2 separate regions of the Homo sapiens genome follow, and region 1 is linked to region 2. Evidence: fine-mapped expression QTL. Tissue or cell type: whole blood. Region 2 holds a variant in brackets; the other region holds the start of a gene. All regions are shown on one strand. Distances are from middle to middle.

Region 1 (8,171 bases), 87 kb before region 2:
GATTGTTTGGGATCTATACACAAATCCTATACAGTCTCAGTAGATACCTAATTTTGAGACAGTCATCTTATCCCCTCCCCACCCCTGCAGTTCTCCATTAAAGCCCCATCACATTAAGAAAGATAAATCTCATAAGAGTGTGTACAGGAGGTCTTAAAAAGTCCCTCTTTAAGAACTTTCCTATTTCTCTTCAATACGTCAAACTTCTATTTCCAGTGGTCAGTTAGACATCTCCAGCTAGACAGATGCTATATTTTGGATGCATTTCAAATGCAACACAGCTCATTTGGAACTCATTGTATTTTCCCGACTTGCCTCCTCTACAAGTTCAGAGCATCACCATCTGCTCGAGCCATCAATTTAAATCTCCTAAGCTAGAAACTTGGGAACTGTTCTCAACATTCCATTTTCCTCATCCTTTATATCCACAATCCTACAAGTTTTATAGGCTCAATTTTCTAGAATACTCTGGAATACATCCTCTCCTCTCCTACTTACCGCCACTAATTTCACCAAAACTGACACAATTGCCTCCTCTGTAAACTTTCTGACAATAAGTTCTCCCCTCATGTCCCTCTTCCTTACTTTTTCCCTAAGGCATCTGTCCAGATTCCTTTTGCTATTATTTCAAATGCATATTTAATTACATCCATCTACTCCTTAAAAATCTTAGTTTTTCCCTGGGGCCCACAAAAATCATCTGCTTTGAATGTTAATTTTCACACACTGCCCTTTTCTATTTAGTCAACCATTCTCTGATTTGCAGTCTCTTCTGACCTGTAAAAAATGCACACTTTTTTGTCTTTGTTTAAGCACTCTTTCCTCTTTGGGCATACTCTGTTTATCTAAATCTTCTCCATAACAGCAGTACTAAAATAATTTATTGTGTACTACTAAGGGATAGTATGCAAACCACTTTACAATCATTAGGTTATTTCAAGCACCATTTTACATTGAGGAAATTGAGGATGTTATTTGTACAAGATCACATTTTTAAGCAAGCAGTAAAACTGGGATTATAATTCCGGTCTATCTCAATCCATGAACTGAACATTTAAATGCTGCCTCCTACTACAATGTATCACATAACTCGTGTCAAGTTGTACAGTTATTTTTAAGCTTCCAGATCATTCTAGTTCCCCTTTTCTTAATCATTCTAGTTCTCCTCTCATCTGTAATCATGGTTTGCGCCAACATCAGTGTTTAGTACTAAGTTATTCTTTAATATTTTATTTTTGTTAAATCTTATCTCAACTAGATTGTAATTTGTTTTGTGAGAGGTAACTAAAAAAAAAATCCTAACGTAACTCCACAAAGCCATAGTATAACGTTATAATAGTAAATAGCATAACCTTATAATAAATAGTTTCGCCTTATTGAGGTAGGTAGTAAGTGTGCTTTAGGTAGATTTGGTTGGTGCAAATGTAATTGTGGTTTTTGCCACCGAAAGAAATGGCAAAACCCCAATGACTTTTGCACCAACCTAAATATCATCTCATTTACATATGTAATAAATACTCAATATTTGCTTTAATTAAAATAGGGGTAGACAAGTGAATTATATTTAGAGGTTCTAGGTGACTGAAATTTTCACAGGGGCAGAAACCCAAAATATGTATGTGCAGTTAATTTTTTCTGTCTCTTCTGTGTTGGGCCATCTTTTTTTTCTCTTTTTTTTTGAGATGGAGTCTCACTCTATCGCCCAGGCTGTAGTGCAGTGGCGTGATCTCAGCTCACTGCAGCCTCCGCCTCCCGGGTTCAAGCAATTCTCCTGCCTCAGCCTCCCGAGTAGCTGGGACTACAGGCAACTGCCACCATGCTCAGCTAGTTTTTTAATATTTTTAGTAGAGATGGGGTTTCACCATGTTGGCCAGGCTGGTCTGGAACTCCTGACCTCAAGTGATCCGCCCACCTCGGCCTCCCAAAGCGCTGAGATTACAGGCCTGAGCCACTGCGCCCGGCCTTTCTCTTCTTTTTCATGATATACTACTGGATTTGTCTGTGCTTGTAATTATTTTAGCTGTTTATTAGTTTATTACAAAAAAATGGTACTGTACCTTTATGGGAATAATTAGCACCTATGTGAATATTTAAGTTACCGATTTTGGCAAATGTGAAGTCCAAGTTGTCTTGTTTTGTTTACGTTTATATCCTCTCTCCCTTCTTGAGAAGACATATTTTCATTTAAAATAAACCCACTTGGCCGGGCGCGGTGGCTCACGCCTGTAATCCCAGCACTTTGGAAGGCCGAGGCGGGTGGATCACGAGGTCAGGAGATCGAGACTATTAGCCGGGCGCGGTGGCGGGCGCCTGTAGTCCCAGCTACCCCAGGGAGGCTGAGGCAGGAGAATGGCGTGAACCCGGGAGGCGGAGCTTGCAGTGAGCCGAGATCGCGCCACTGCACTCCAGCCTGGGCGACAGAGAGAGATTCCGTCTCTAAATACATACATACATACATACATACATACATAATAAATAAAATAAAATAAACCCACTCACCCCCACCCCGACTCCCCAGCTGTAGCAGGGAAGGATTAAGAAGGCGGGGTGGGGGGTGGGGGAAGCCCTGTTAGGTAGTGCTGCGTTGGGCCCACTTCTGAGGGTTTAATCCTAGTAGGGTCTTTGGAGTTCTTTCTTCGGAGGCGCGTAGCTCTGCATTATTTAAAACTGTTTCCCGCAAACCCGCAATCCCTTAGGCCAAAGGCACCCCTAACGCGGAAAGTCTACGAACGGAAATGTCCGGAGTTAGAGAGCGGCCTTTCGGGCAGCTGCCCCGACTTCTCCAAGGCCGGAGGGCCGGCTGGGAGCGCTGCAAGCCAGAGAGGGCGATCCCAGCGGGACCCGCGGCCTGAGGATAGGCCTGGAGCTGCCGCCTCCGCCAGGCGACGGGAAACCCTCGGAAGTGGGTTTCCGCGCGAAAGTAGCATTGCGGCCAGGCGGGAAACGTGTTCGCGAAGCAGGAGGGCCCCCGGGGCCTTTCCCGGGCGACCCGACCCGCCAGGCCGCGTGGCGGGAGCTTTCCTGTTGAGCGCGGTGGAGCGCACACATTTCCTTCAGTTCTTTCTCGGAAGTTTAGGCCGCACCCACCCGCGCCCCCTTTCCAGGATTATACAAGTGCACGCCAGGGTTTCTTATTTTTGGTGTGTTTTTGAGACCAAAGAACCATATCCGCTAAGCCTGAGGAGGCACCCGCCCCCTCAGCTCTGAAACGAGGCCTCAAAACGGCAACCGATGTGGTAGCCGCGCAATCTTCCGAAACCCAAAGGCTAGAGGGCGTGCCCAGTGGCCAGGTGCAGGCGGTGGGGCAAGTAACGGCTTTTGGTAGCCCCGCCCCTCCGACCCGCCCTCTCCGCGCCTGCCCATTTTCGTTCCCTCGGGTCTGTAACCCTCTCCCGGGCCGCTTCCTCTTTAAGGCGGAGCCCGGCGTGGATCTCGCGAGATCCGGCTTGGCGCCGTGACCTCCATGTGGGAGCTCCAGCTCTATAAGTAAACACTCTGCGCGGCGCAGACATGGCCTCTTCCTATCTTTGAGGCGGTGTCTGCGGCAGCGCCTCAGAGTGGTTCCGGTCGTCTCTCCTCAAGTCGGCTAGTCGGGCGCGCGCGCTGAGAGTCGTCGCCGCCTGTCGGGCCCGGCGTCCGGTCGGTCCGGTGGGCGCGCTCGCCCGCCTGCCGCTGAGGGCCCGAGCCGCAGGGAAAGCGGCGCGGGCCGGGCGGGGCGCGGCGCCCAGAGCTCAGGGGGAGACAAAGGGGACCGGTTCCTCTCTAGGCGCCAAGATGTGGATACAGGTTCGCACCATTGATGGCTCCAAGACGTGCACCATTGAGGACGTGTCTCGCAAAGCCACGATTGAGGAGCTGCGCGAGCGGGTGTGGGCGCTGTTCGACGTGCGGCCCGAATGCCAGCGCCTCTTCTACCGGGGCAAGCAGGTGAGGCGCGCCCGCCGCGCCCCTAGCGAGGCTGGGGGCCGGAACAGCTGGGCTCCTCTGGACGCACCGGTCCGAGGGCTCTGTGCGCCGCGCGCGCAGGGCTCACCTGGCTCCGCTGCGGGTGGGCAGCCCCCGCGAGGCGCGGGGTGCGGGGCCCAGTCCCGCCGAATGGTGGGGAGTGGGTCCCTGCCAGCCCCAACTGGAGGTGCGCCGCGCGGGGTCAGAAGTGAGGGCGTCCGGAGCGCAAATATCTCGCCGTTTGTATTTGGTAGGACAGCGGCCGTAGGCACTGGGTGCCCAGGTCCCTCGCTTCCCGCGCTCGGCGGGGCCTGGGGCCCCCAGAGGGCGGGGAGGGCAGAGGGCTCTGGCGGCCATGCCACCGCGCGGGAGACCCGGAGAGCTGGCTAACCCGGCTGAGCGTTCGCCTGGCTTCCGCGGCTCTTCCGCGTCTTCGGCTCTCAAACAGGGGAAACTCGGGCATTGAGCTCTCAAGAATAAGAACCCTAACTCTGCTTCCTGACTGTGGTAGGATTCGCGCAAACTGAAGATTCGAAGGGTTTCCAGAACTTCTGGTCCCTCTCCCTCGCCGCCTTTCCTAGGTTTGGAATGTCTCGAGGGAGGTTAGAGACCTGGGCATGAAGAAACTGTCGGTTTAACCGGGGGCCGGGTTTACGAATGCCCTATATAAGCCAAGAGTTTTATTCCCGAAGTGAAAAGGAGTGTAAGACTGTTTGCTTTTCTTACTTCTCGCCTTCTAATACTCATGTCGTTCACGCTTTAAGCATAGCACTGCAGCATAGCCAGCGGTGCATACTTGAAGGCTGTCTGTGGGCATCTCTGGTATTTTTATGGTCTGGCCAGTCTAAGTTTTTTTCCTATTCCACAAGTCTCTTACAATCTATATCCCTAGCCACTCAGACCCATCGTATTTTTCTTTGTCTTCATGTTGTTGTTAATACACTAAAAAGTTGGCATCCTGAGTTGATAGACCACAGTTTGGCTCCAATCCTGTGGTTTTAAATAAGTGTAGCTCTTTGATTTGGTAGAAGTAGCCTACAGTTGCAAACTACTTAAAAGGAATATTTTCCTCCCCTTCACAGGCTTAGTCTTCGAAGACTGTCCAGAAATTTCATAGTAACAAATTACACTTTGGGAAGGAGAGAGCTTTTTTTTCCCCTTTCCTTCTCTCTTTAAAATAATGTTATAGCACCTTTGATTTGTGTTTGCAGCCAGTTTTGTACTGACTTCTTAGTGTTTGACTTGTAAAAACAGGTATTTAGTTGTAAGCTTTGCTTTTGAAATAATTGTACACTTGTTAAATACTACATAGATTTGCTTTGCTGTGCCTCAAGTGGCTGATACCGTTTCCTTTTGATCACAAGTGAAAAAGCATGTAATCGTTTGATGCATTTTATTTTCTAGCTGGGGACAAATAGTACATGAATTCCTAGGACACTGGTGATTTCAGCACCAGAGATAGAAATGAAGGATGTTCTTGGGCAACACTCCTAAAATCTTTATTATCAAATATGCTAAAATAATTATCACATATGGGATTGGGTTAAATTCAAGGCAACAAAGTAGACTTTCAGTAAACTAGGAAGCTCATTCCAGATTCCAGGGAAAACTGAGGATAACCGTTGTACTTCCTCTTCCAGGGTCCTAGTGGGTAATTCACTACTTGGGTTTCTTCAGCCCAGTGATAAACCAGTAGGGTAGAGGAATAGACCTTTGGTGCCAGCCATTAACTTGGAAACAGAAAAGGAAGGTCATTGGTACCAGCTGTGTGTTCACTTTCTTATGCGCTGACAAGTAGCTATGGCAATGAGTGTTATCTTTCGTGGTCTCTGGAGCTCCACAGATGAGGTAGCCAGCCTGTAGCAGGTAACTACTGGAATGGCATCACAGAGAGTCCCCGTCCTGTAAAATACCATGTCCTCATTGGAAAAAGGTACCCCTACTTCAAAATACTTTACTGCCACGTAGTGAAAAATGTCATAAATTGTAGACAATACATTTATTTTTATTTAAGTGGTACCCGCCCCCCATACTCCATTCGTATGTTAGGCTCCAGCTTTTAATCTTTGGTATGTATCAGAATCGCTTGTGGATATTTATTATAGATGTTCAGCTCACCCCAGAACTGCAAGTAGTTGAATTTAACAAGACCCCACGGGAGATTCTGATAACACCAGAGTTTAGAAAATGAATGTTGATAGATAGTCTCCCACTAGTCTCTTACTATTCAAAGTATGGTCCCTGGATTCTCAGGACCAGCAGCATTAGCTTTACCTGAAATCCTCACGCCAGACCTACTGAAGCTGACCTACTGAAGCAGAATCTGTATTTTAACAAGATCTCCAGGTGATCTGTATGTAGGTGAAGTTGGAGAAGGCAGTGTTAATTGACTCCACTTTTTTTGTTGTTGTTTTTGTTTTTTTTTTAAGCCGGAGTCTTGCCCTGTCGCCAGGCTGGAGTGGCGCGATCTCGGCTTACTACAACCTCTGCCTCCCGGGTTCAAGCGATTCCCCTGCCGCAGTCTCCCAAGTAGCTGGGACTACAGGCGTGCGCCACCACTCCCGGCAAATTTTTTGTATTTTAGTAGAGACGAGGTTTCACCATTTTGGACACGATGGTCTCTATCTAGGACAGGACCTCAGGTGATGCGCCCACCTCGGCTTCCCAAAGTGCTGGGATTACAGGCGTAAGCTACCGTGCCCAGCCTTGACTCCACATTTGAGGGTCAAAATGGAGACCTGCAATTCAGGGCTATAAGTTTTGGTTAGAGTAGGATAACATGCTGTGAACATTCTTATCTGGGAAGTTGAGTTTGAGGCACGCGGGGGATTGGGTCTTTTTAAGGAAGAGATTATGTTGGTGGATCTCTAAATCTTTTTTTTTTTTTTTTTTTTTTTTTGAGACGGAGTCTCGTTCTGTCGCCCAGGCGGGAGTGCTGTGGCGCGATCTCCGCTCACTGCAAGCTCCGCCTTCCGGGTTCACGCCATTCTGCCTCAGCCTCCCGAGTAGCTGGGACTACAGGCGCCCGCCACTGCGCCCGGCTGATTTTTTGTATTTTTAGTAGAGACGGGGTTTCACCGTGGTCTCGATCTCCTGACCTCGTGATCCGCCCGCCTCGGCCTCCCAAAGTGCTGGGATTACAGGCGTGAGCCACCGCGCCCGGCCTAAATCTTTTGAGAATCCAGAGCTTTTCCTATTTTAAAGGATTCTCTCTCGTCATTCTTTCACTCCTTACCACTATAGAGGTGGTCTTAAAATAGATAACAATGTGGGGCATGAACTATAGTTGAAGAAAAAAGTTGCCTCTCCCACTTGGTTTTCACACAGAATATAAAAGTACTTGCCTATTTAAAGGAATATCTATGTATATATTATATATGATGTATATAACATATATAATACACACATATATAATATGTGATGGATACGTGAAAGTTGTTTTGCCCTTCACTGGCATCCCTAGTCAGTAGTTGCTTGGGAATGACTTCCCACTGCCCTCTCAGCCACTTCCACTTGGCATTTGCTTTCTAGTATTCCCTTGCATCATTGTTGCAGTTCCTCTTGTTACCTGGAGTTTCTTCTTTCAACTCAGTAAAATTTCAAGAGTGGTCTGACAAAAAATCCTAACCATTTTTGCTTCTTAAGTATTGTAAATACTGCATCTCCATCTTCGAGTATGGCAGTTCTCAAACATTTGCTTTTGAGACATTGATGGACCTAAGTTACATGCTTCTGACTCACAGATGTTTGTGATTTCTAAATGACCGCTTCCTTTTTTCCCTACTTAGAGCTTAATTTGAGTGTCAGAGATAACTTTCAATCTTCACTTTCATTAAATGTGGAAGAACTTCGGTACTTTTCAAGTAAATCATCTCAACACTTCACAGCTCTTCATAATATGTGAAGCTTTGTGGAATAAAGTTGTGTGGAACTTGTTATTGCGGTAGATAAATGGTCACTATTGTAGGAAGACTGGAGGAGTACCTATGAATTAGCGAAGGAGTGGATAATCTGGGTTTAAAAAGCCTGTCATAGCAAGCATGAGGAAAGGTGGTTATATGTTACTGTGGATGTAACTTATAGGGTCTCATGCCGTGATATGCTTAGACATGGTGCTCTTACGACATTTTTTCCTGTCAAATCAAATTTTAAAAAGCACCAGTTGAAACAGTTTGTATTTACTCCTGACCGTCATTTAGTAGAAACTAACCAGGAGCTGACTGTAG
Region 2 (8,000 bases):
CTGGAATGTGGAAAGTAGACCTGGGAAGGTCATTTGTACCTTGCTGACAAATTTATATTTCTGGATTTCTTTCTACATTATTCCAGCAATTCACCTTACACCCTTACCAAAGATCACTATTGAAAAAATCATTTGCTTTAGTTTTCCAACGTTCTCCCTTCCCCCAACAAACGTTATTTAAAGAAAAATTCCATGTATTTCTAGTTGTTTTCTATTATACGTGGCACAGATGTTATTACTTTCAGAAGAACCCTACAGGCTATCTGAGAACCAATCCCCTGGCTTGGGGGTGACATCAGAAAACTGATTTGTCTTCTCTGCTGGTGGGGGAAAGCATAATCCTATTATCTGGAATAATATGGAAAGAATCATAGAATCTTAACCATCAGGTAAGGTATAATTCACCTTTTAATTGAGCTAATGACTCGATTGTGTACTTGAAGAAAAATTACATGGTATAAAGACTTCTTTGTTGTTTTTTAGGGCATTGGCCCTAAACTGTGATGCTCCATTGGATGATAAAATTGGAGCAGAGTCTCGGAATTGGAGAGCTGGTAAGCCAGTCAGAGTGATACGCAGTTTTAAAGGGAGGAAGATCAGCAAATATGCTCCTGAAGAAGGCAACAGATATGATGGCATTTATAAGGTGCTCTATCTGGCATGACATCTTGTTTGTCATTCTTCCTGGGCTTTCAAGGCAGGGTTGTTGCAAGGAACTACTGTGGGTGGGCTCGAGGAAACAGTAGCCATCTTATATTGCTACTTTTTCTGGAAATTGAACAGATGCATAAAGCAAACTCTTAACTTCAGCACTTTACTTTTAAGGCTTATTTCGAGTTCCTAGGGGCAGAGTTGGGTTAAGGTTTTTTTTTTTAAAATGTAAGTGTATGTTCTCTATAATAAAGCCATTTAAGTAACTGGCTGTTGTATAACTTGATTTTTATATATCTTTTTGAATGATTTTAGTTGTAATAGATTTTCAAAGCAGCACATCATAGTAATAGATTTTCATTCTTTGTTTAAAAAGAGGCATTTGCTGCCATCTTTACGATACAAAATTCTGTTAATTAGCATAATCTTGTTACTCTATTAAATTTATAGCAGTCTGTCCTCATGGGAAGTACTGTAATAGGAATTAAGGTCAAAACTGTTTTAGTGAATATTCTTGACTTACTGTCCTTACAGCAAAGCAGAATATTCAGAAGTTGCATTTAGTTCTGGCAAAGATTATTTTGATACCACTAATGTGATGAATAAGTCTAAATTTTAAATCTCAAACTGGCACTGAAATATTGTGATTTAGGTGGTGAAATACTGGCCAGAGATTTCATCAAGCCATGGATTCTTGGTTTGGCGCTATCTTTTAAGAAGAGATGATGTTGAACCTGCTCCTTGGACCTCTGAAGGAATAGAACGGTCAAGGAGATTATGTCTACGTTTACAGGTTAGATTACATTTGTCTAGGCTGCCTGTGTGTTCATAAAAATATACACCTCTTCTATCTACATGCCTTAACACTGGATATAACCCACAGCAATTGACTGGTGGACTATAAGGGGTGAGGAATAAGATCATGCAAATAGACAGAGGAAAAGAAGAGAAAAGGTAGTATCCTAGATGTCAGACTGCCCTGGGACCAAGGGTTGTGCTTGGGAAAAGTTGGACCTGTTAATTAAAAGTAAAATATTTCCAAATCAATTTGGAAATGACTTGAAGTGTGAGGGAAAGGGATTCATAAAATTTAGGTATAGGAGGCCCTGGAAAAGGACATTTATCCTAGAGGGCACAGGGGGTGTCTCTCTGGTAGGGGAAGGGTGGGGAGGTGGCTTTATAAGAGTGGTCTGCCTTCTCCCTTTCTCACTTTTCCTCACCCCTTTTCTCTCTTCCCCCGCAAAGCTGCTTCCCTGCCCTGCCACCACCTTTAGTGCTTTGTCTTTTTTCCCCTTTGCCCATGCTCAGCTGTTAACCCATAAAGACTTCGTTGATTTTGTGTGCATAGTGGATGGTATGGCTGCATTAATCCCTTCACTGCCTGTATACCCTAGAATTTGTCCCTGACACTGACTTCAGAGCATGGTTTGAGTTCATCTCCCATCATTCCCCATTGTTGTGCTTCCCGTAAAAACTGCCAGCTTTATCATTTCCCCTGGCTCTGCCCACACTGCATGTGTAGGGGCTGAACTATGGGCAAGTGTCTGACCACCCAGGCAGGTGAGTGTGTGTCTTCTAATGCAAGTCTGTTTCTGTTTTTGTTGTCTTTTTAAACTCATAGAATTGATTGTTGAAAATAAGGCCATCAACTGCTAAAACAACTACTAAAATAATTCTTTTTAATATAAAAATAACTTTGTCAAATTCACTTTCAGAAGATTTTTCAGATGTCCCTGTTGAGAGCATTGTTCTAGATAGGTTATATTTGAAACTGTGAGCAGAAGCATGTGAGCCCATCTGCTATGATGAGTAATAGTCATTGAGGCCTGAAACATACAGTGCTTTAAGCATGACTGTTATTACAAAGCATGCTTCTCCCACCCCACCCACCCCCTCAAAGAAGGTAGCCATTGAAACATAAGGATGATAGATAGAATGTATTACTTCAAATCTAACTCTTAGCTGGTGGAGGATTTAGTAATTTAGTTGCTTTAGGTCTTGTAAAAGCTCCTGCCGCTAACTTTAGGAGATGAGAAGTTTGACCCTTAATGTTCTTGATATTTTTTTAGATCAACTCCACAATTTACTGTGATCCAATCCATCTGCTTTCTATCTGTTGTGCTCTATGATTGGTTCTCATTTACCTTCATTTCTGTATTCTACTTTCCTTAAACTTTAAGGAAATCTAATCACAACTCCTGAAGACTTACCTTTCTTAGATCTGAAACTTAAGATCAGTGTATTATAAAATGGAATCTCTTAGCAGTCACAGCTACATAAATTGGGATTTTAATAGTTGTCTGTGCTTTGAATTCTTTTCCTTTAAATGTCTGTTTCTTTTATGTAAAGTTTTTCAGTTTGGGGAACGTGTAGTCTTCCCCTCCCTTTTAATTTCTCACCAGGATCTAAACCCCCCTTCTCTGTGAAGCTTAAATCTGCATTGTACTCTCCCTCCTCCCCCCCCATCAGTATCCAGCAGGTTACCCTTCAGATAAAGAAGGGAAGAAGCCTAAAGGACAGTCAAAGAAGCAGCCCAGTGGAACCACAAAAAGGCCAATTTCAGATGGTAGGTAATGATTGCAAAATATAAATAATAATAACATACTTTTGTTGTTGTTGTTGTTGA[G/T]ACGGGGTCTCACTCTTGTCACCCAGGCTGGAGTGCAGTGGAAAGATCTTGGCTCACTGTAGCCTTGACCTCCTGGGCTCAAGCGATCCACCTACCTCAACCTCTGAAGTAGCCCACGGCTGTACACCACCACACCTGGCTAATTTTTGTATCTTTTGTAAAGATGGGGTTTCTCCATGTTGCCCAAGCTGGTCTTGAACTCCTGGGCTGAAGGGATCCTCCTGCCTCAGCCTCCTAAAGTGCTGGGATTACAGGCAGAAGCCACTGCATCCAGCCAACATACTTTTTAATAAAGAGAAATATTAAGAAAATAAATTGAGACTTAAATGAAAGCAAAGGATTTGGCTGGGGGGGCATGGTAGAAGATGGATCTTTTGTTTAATAGTGTCAGAGCCAAATAGCAGGAAATAACAGTATCCTAAATTTTAGGGGAAATTAGATGCTGTTTTATGTTGGTTATCTTTCTGCTAAACATTACTTGTGCCAGTTAACTCTTTTGTTTCATAGTTCTGCTTAGAACCACTTGTAAGTCTGCTGATACATTTTTAAAATAAATCTAGATGACTGTCCAAGTGCCTCCAAAGTGTACAAAGCATCAGATTCAGCAGAAGCAATTGAGGCTTTTCAACTAACTCCTCAACAGCAACATCTCATCAGAGAAGATTGTCAAAACCAGAAGCTGTGGGATGAAGTGCTTTCACATCTTGTGGAAGGACCAGTATGTGAAGATTTTTTTAAATAATAACATTCTGATATTAACAAATGATAAATAATTGTCTCATGAAGTCTGTTTTTCACACATCAGTCAAAACTTCATCCTTCTACCCGGTTTTCTAATCCAGTGCCACTACCTTTCAGAAATAATCTGAGGCAACACATATACATGCGCCTAAATTTACTTTAAACCTCTTAGATGCTGGATTTTGACTTCTCTATGCCCAAAGTTACTTTACTTTGAGGTACTGTTCCTCAGAAGAATTTTCAGTTTGTGAAACATCGTCATTTTAATCTAAAAATCACCACGAAAGTTTTTGTTACAGTTCAAAGTTACCTAACCGCATAAGTCTTAAGCAGTTCAGCACAATTTTCAAAACCTACATGTTAAACTAAGTGGTAAAATTAACCAGATTATCTATTAAGTATTTTATGTTTCTAAATTTTCATTTTTTCTTAATCTTTAAATTAATCACATAATTTTAAAGTAAAAAGGAATCACAGTTAATTAATGTGTGGGCTTTGTGTTAAGCTGTGTTTTGCAAACAAGCCCTTCTTATCAAATCCCTAAAGTTGGAGTCTTCAAATATGAACTATCTCTTCATTCTTTCCTCACTTATTGTGTCTTTAATTTTACTTATAAATTTGAATCTTCTATTAAATATTGACCCCTTGTCATTTATAATACAATTACTTTTCTGTTTTCTTTCTCTCCAAAGTGTTGATGTGCCCCCATGTCTGTATGTCTTTTCTATCTAGGCTGAAAGCAGCAACACAAAAACTCTACAGAGTTTCCTTTGTGAGAAATAGTCATTATTATTAAGGAAGAATTTTTTAAATATGATTTTTAAACTTTTAGAAATGCTGAAATTTATCAAATATTTGGATTTATATTGGAATCGTTACTTCCTTTGTCTATAAATGTGATACATTGAGTTATCTTTGGCAAAATGAAGCTTACATGTTTAGAGGACAGGGGAAAGTGATTACACTTTGAGAAGTGTTTACTTGTATTTTAGCCAAGACACCCAGGCGTAAGCAGAGTCTGACTTTGTTAGGTCACACTCATTTTCACTTATAGGAAATTAAGATACAGGAAGCAGTTGTTAATCAGCCTAATTATTCTCTGATTGGGAAAGATAGGGCTTGTTAGTGATAACTGAGGTGAGTTTCCACTGTAGGTGGGAGAGAAGCAATTACAGATGGAGGAAAAAGCCACCTGAGTGGTGTGAAAGTTGTCTTCCCTATGGGTAGTGTCCCACTGGGACAGATTCTGACCTTCCTAGGTCATATTATTGTGACCTTGCTGCTAGTGATTACTTTGGATGTTATGTACTATTGCCCTGGACAAGTTTCATGCCCATTCTCTTCAGATAAGCCAGGAACACATTTATTAAGCCAGAAAAAAACAGGTGTTAGCCAACAGTGACTTTAAATAAATACATATGTGTATATATATTTATGTCCAAACTCCTTCCAAAGGCCCTGTGATCAGCAGCCCTACCTACATCTGTAGTCTCCTCTTAAACTGGTACTCTTGTGCCCAGATTGCTTGACTGCAGTGGTCACTGTTTTATTTAAACATGCTCGACGTCTTGATACCCCTGGGCCTTTACATACATACTGTTACTCTGACTGGAATTCTCTTTTCATGTGTCTCACTCTTTCATATCCTTTAAGTCTGTATAAATAGATTCCTCAGAGAGATCTTCCCAAACTACCCTTTCTAAAATGGCAACTCTTTAAAATTTAGTTTAAAAAGTCCAAACAGATGGGGTTACTATGTTGCCCAGACTGATCTCAAACACCTGGGCTCAGGCAATCCTCCCGCTTCAGCCTCCTAAGTAGCTGGGTTTATAGGCATGAGTCAGTTTGCTCTGTTTCATCAGTTATTACTATCTGAAACAGTTTTTGTTTGTTTACTCTGCTGTAGGAACGTAAGTTCCAGGAGAGCACAGACTGCCTTTTTATTACCACTGTAGATGAGTGCCTAGCACATTGTAGCTACCTGTAACTCAAAATACCTGTATTAGATATACCCGTATTATAGGAACTGTGGAAGTACCAGGTTAAATATTGGTCATTAACAAAGGTGTTTGTTAGGGAGAGAGTACCTGTTATAAAGTTTCCAGCATCTCCACATAATTGCCATATTTTAAAAATGTGTTTATAATACTTTGTCTGTAATATATTTGACTTTAATGATCCATGTTCATAAATCAGTTAATATGAGACATCTTTTGAAATGTGACATTCAATTTTTAAATTTGAAACTTGTAAGGTTTTTTTGTTTGTTTGTTTGTTTTTGAGACGGAGTTGTGGTCTGTCTCCCAGGCTGAAGTACAGTAGCATGATCTCAGCTCACTGCAACCTCCACCTCCTGGGTTCAAGTGATTCTCCTGCCTCAGCCTCCCAAGTAGCTGGGATTGCAGGCACCCGCCACCACGCCCGGCTAATTTCTTGTATTTTTTTCTAGAGACGGTTTTGGCCATGTTGGCCAGGTTGGTCTAGCACTCCTGACCTCAAATGATCCACCCGCCTCAGCCTCCCAGAGTACTGGGATTACATGTGTGAACCACCATGCTTGGCCTTAACTTTTTCTATTAATATAAAAAATAAATATGAAATATACTCCCTTACTACCTAAAATAACTGAAGGATTATCTTTATGACTAGGAAAAAAACTAGTTTTCCTTCTAGCTTAAAAAAAAAAACCAGCCAAGATGAAATGGAGCCAGTAATGGCTTTTGAAGAATACAGGGTATCCATTTGATCATGTTTACATTAGGTGGCTCTACTTTTTATAATTTCCTCCTACTGTAAATAAACATTAGCATCAGGAAGGTATGGGATTTTAGGATTGAGGTAAAATATGACAGAATAATCCTAGGAAAATAAATGTTTTGTTTATGGTATTAGATACTACAGAGTATTGTTTCCTAGTGTTTTTTTTTAAGCTCCTAAAGACAAATATTCAAGTTTTATAACAGCAGAAGATTGAATAGATAATACATGTTCATACTTTGGAATACTGTGCAAAACAGCTTTTTGAAAAAAGGCAGTCAGTATGTAATGACCTTGAGACACGTTGCCCATGATTTTTTTATTTTTTAAGTGAAAAATAGTTTGTCCCTGGAATGTGACATTTAGGGGGACATTGACTTTTTAACATCATATATTGACTTTGCAACTTTTCCTACCCAATACTCTGATTTAAAACTAATGTGTATGGAATGGGATTTCTTTATATAACTTTGCTCTTCTCAGGTAGTTAAAAATCAAGAGTACTTGATTTTTTTAAATAGAAGACTTTTTTTTTTTTTTTTTTTTTTTTTTTTAAGACCGAGTCTCGCTCTGTCACCCAGGCTGGAGTGCAGTGGCGTGATCTCAGCTCACTGCAAGCTCCGCCTTCTTGGTTCACTCCATTCTCCTGCCTCAGCCTCCCCAGCAGCTGGGACTACAGGCACACGCCGCCACGCCCAGATAATTTTTTGTATTTTTAGTAGCGATGGGGTTTCACTGTGTTAGCCAGGATGGTGTCGATCTCCTGACCTTGTGATCCGCCTGCCTCGGCCTCCCAAAGTGCTGGGATTACAGGCGTGAGCCACCGCGCCCGGCCTCTAAATAGAAGACATTAAATGTGACTGAAACATTTTTATTGCTAAATAATAGATGGATATATTTTGGGATACATGTGAAATTTTGATATGTTCATATAACATATAATAAATCAGGGTAATTGGAATGTTCATCACTATAAACATCTTTTATGCTGGGAACATTTGAATTATTCTCTACTAGCTGTTTTGAAATACACAGTAGATGAATTTTATTAGCATATTATGAACTGCTAACTTTTCTTTCCTTATCCTTGGATACTGTTCTAGAATTTTCTGAAAAAATTGGAACAATCTTTTATGTGCGTTTGCTGTCAGGAGCTAGTTTACCAGCCTGTGACAACTGAGTGCTTCCACAATGTCTGTAAAGTAAGTAGAATTCCTTCCTCACT

The links. PIP is the estimated chance that this variant, and not a neighbour inherited with it, causes the effect.
Region 1: UHRF2 starts here. The variant in region 2 is fine-mapped to the expression of UHRF2 in whole blood (TOPMed, PIP 0.96).

Annotation. Positions count from the first base shown.
Region 1 is chr9:6,409,717-6,417,887 of GRCh38, forward strand. UHRF2 (ubiquitin like with PHD and ring finger domains 2) reads left to right here and starts at 3,483. Exons shown (of 16, transcript NM_152896.3): 1 at 3,483-3,927. The coding sequence starts at 3,775. RefSeq lists silencers at 3,201-3,340, 3,621-3,800, 3,871-4,300.
Region 2 is chr9:6,496,715-6,504,714 of GRCh38, forward strand. UHRF2 (ubiquitin like with PHD and ring finger domains 2) reads left to right here. Exons shown (of 16, transcript NM_152896.3): 11 at 484-646; 12 at 1,304-1,444; 13 at 3,121-3,217; 14 at 3,838-3,995; 15 at 7,879-7,977. Among named protein-coding and RNA genes, the nearest start is that of UHRF2, 88 kb to the left of the region's middle. The variant G/T (reference allele first, on the strand shown) is at 3,278.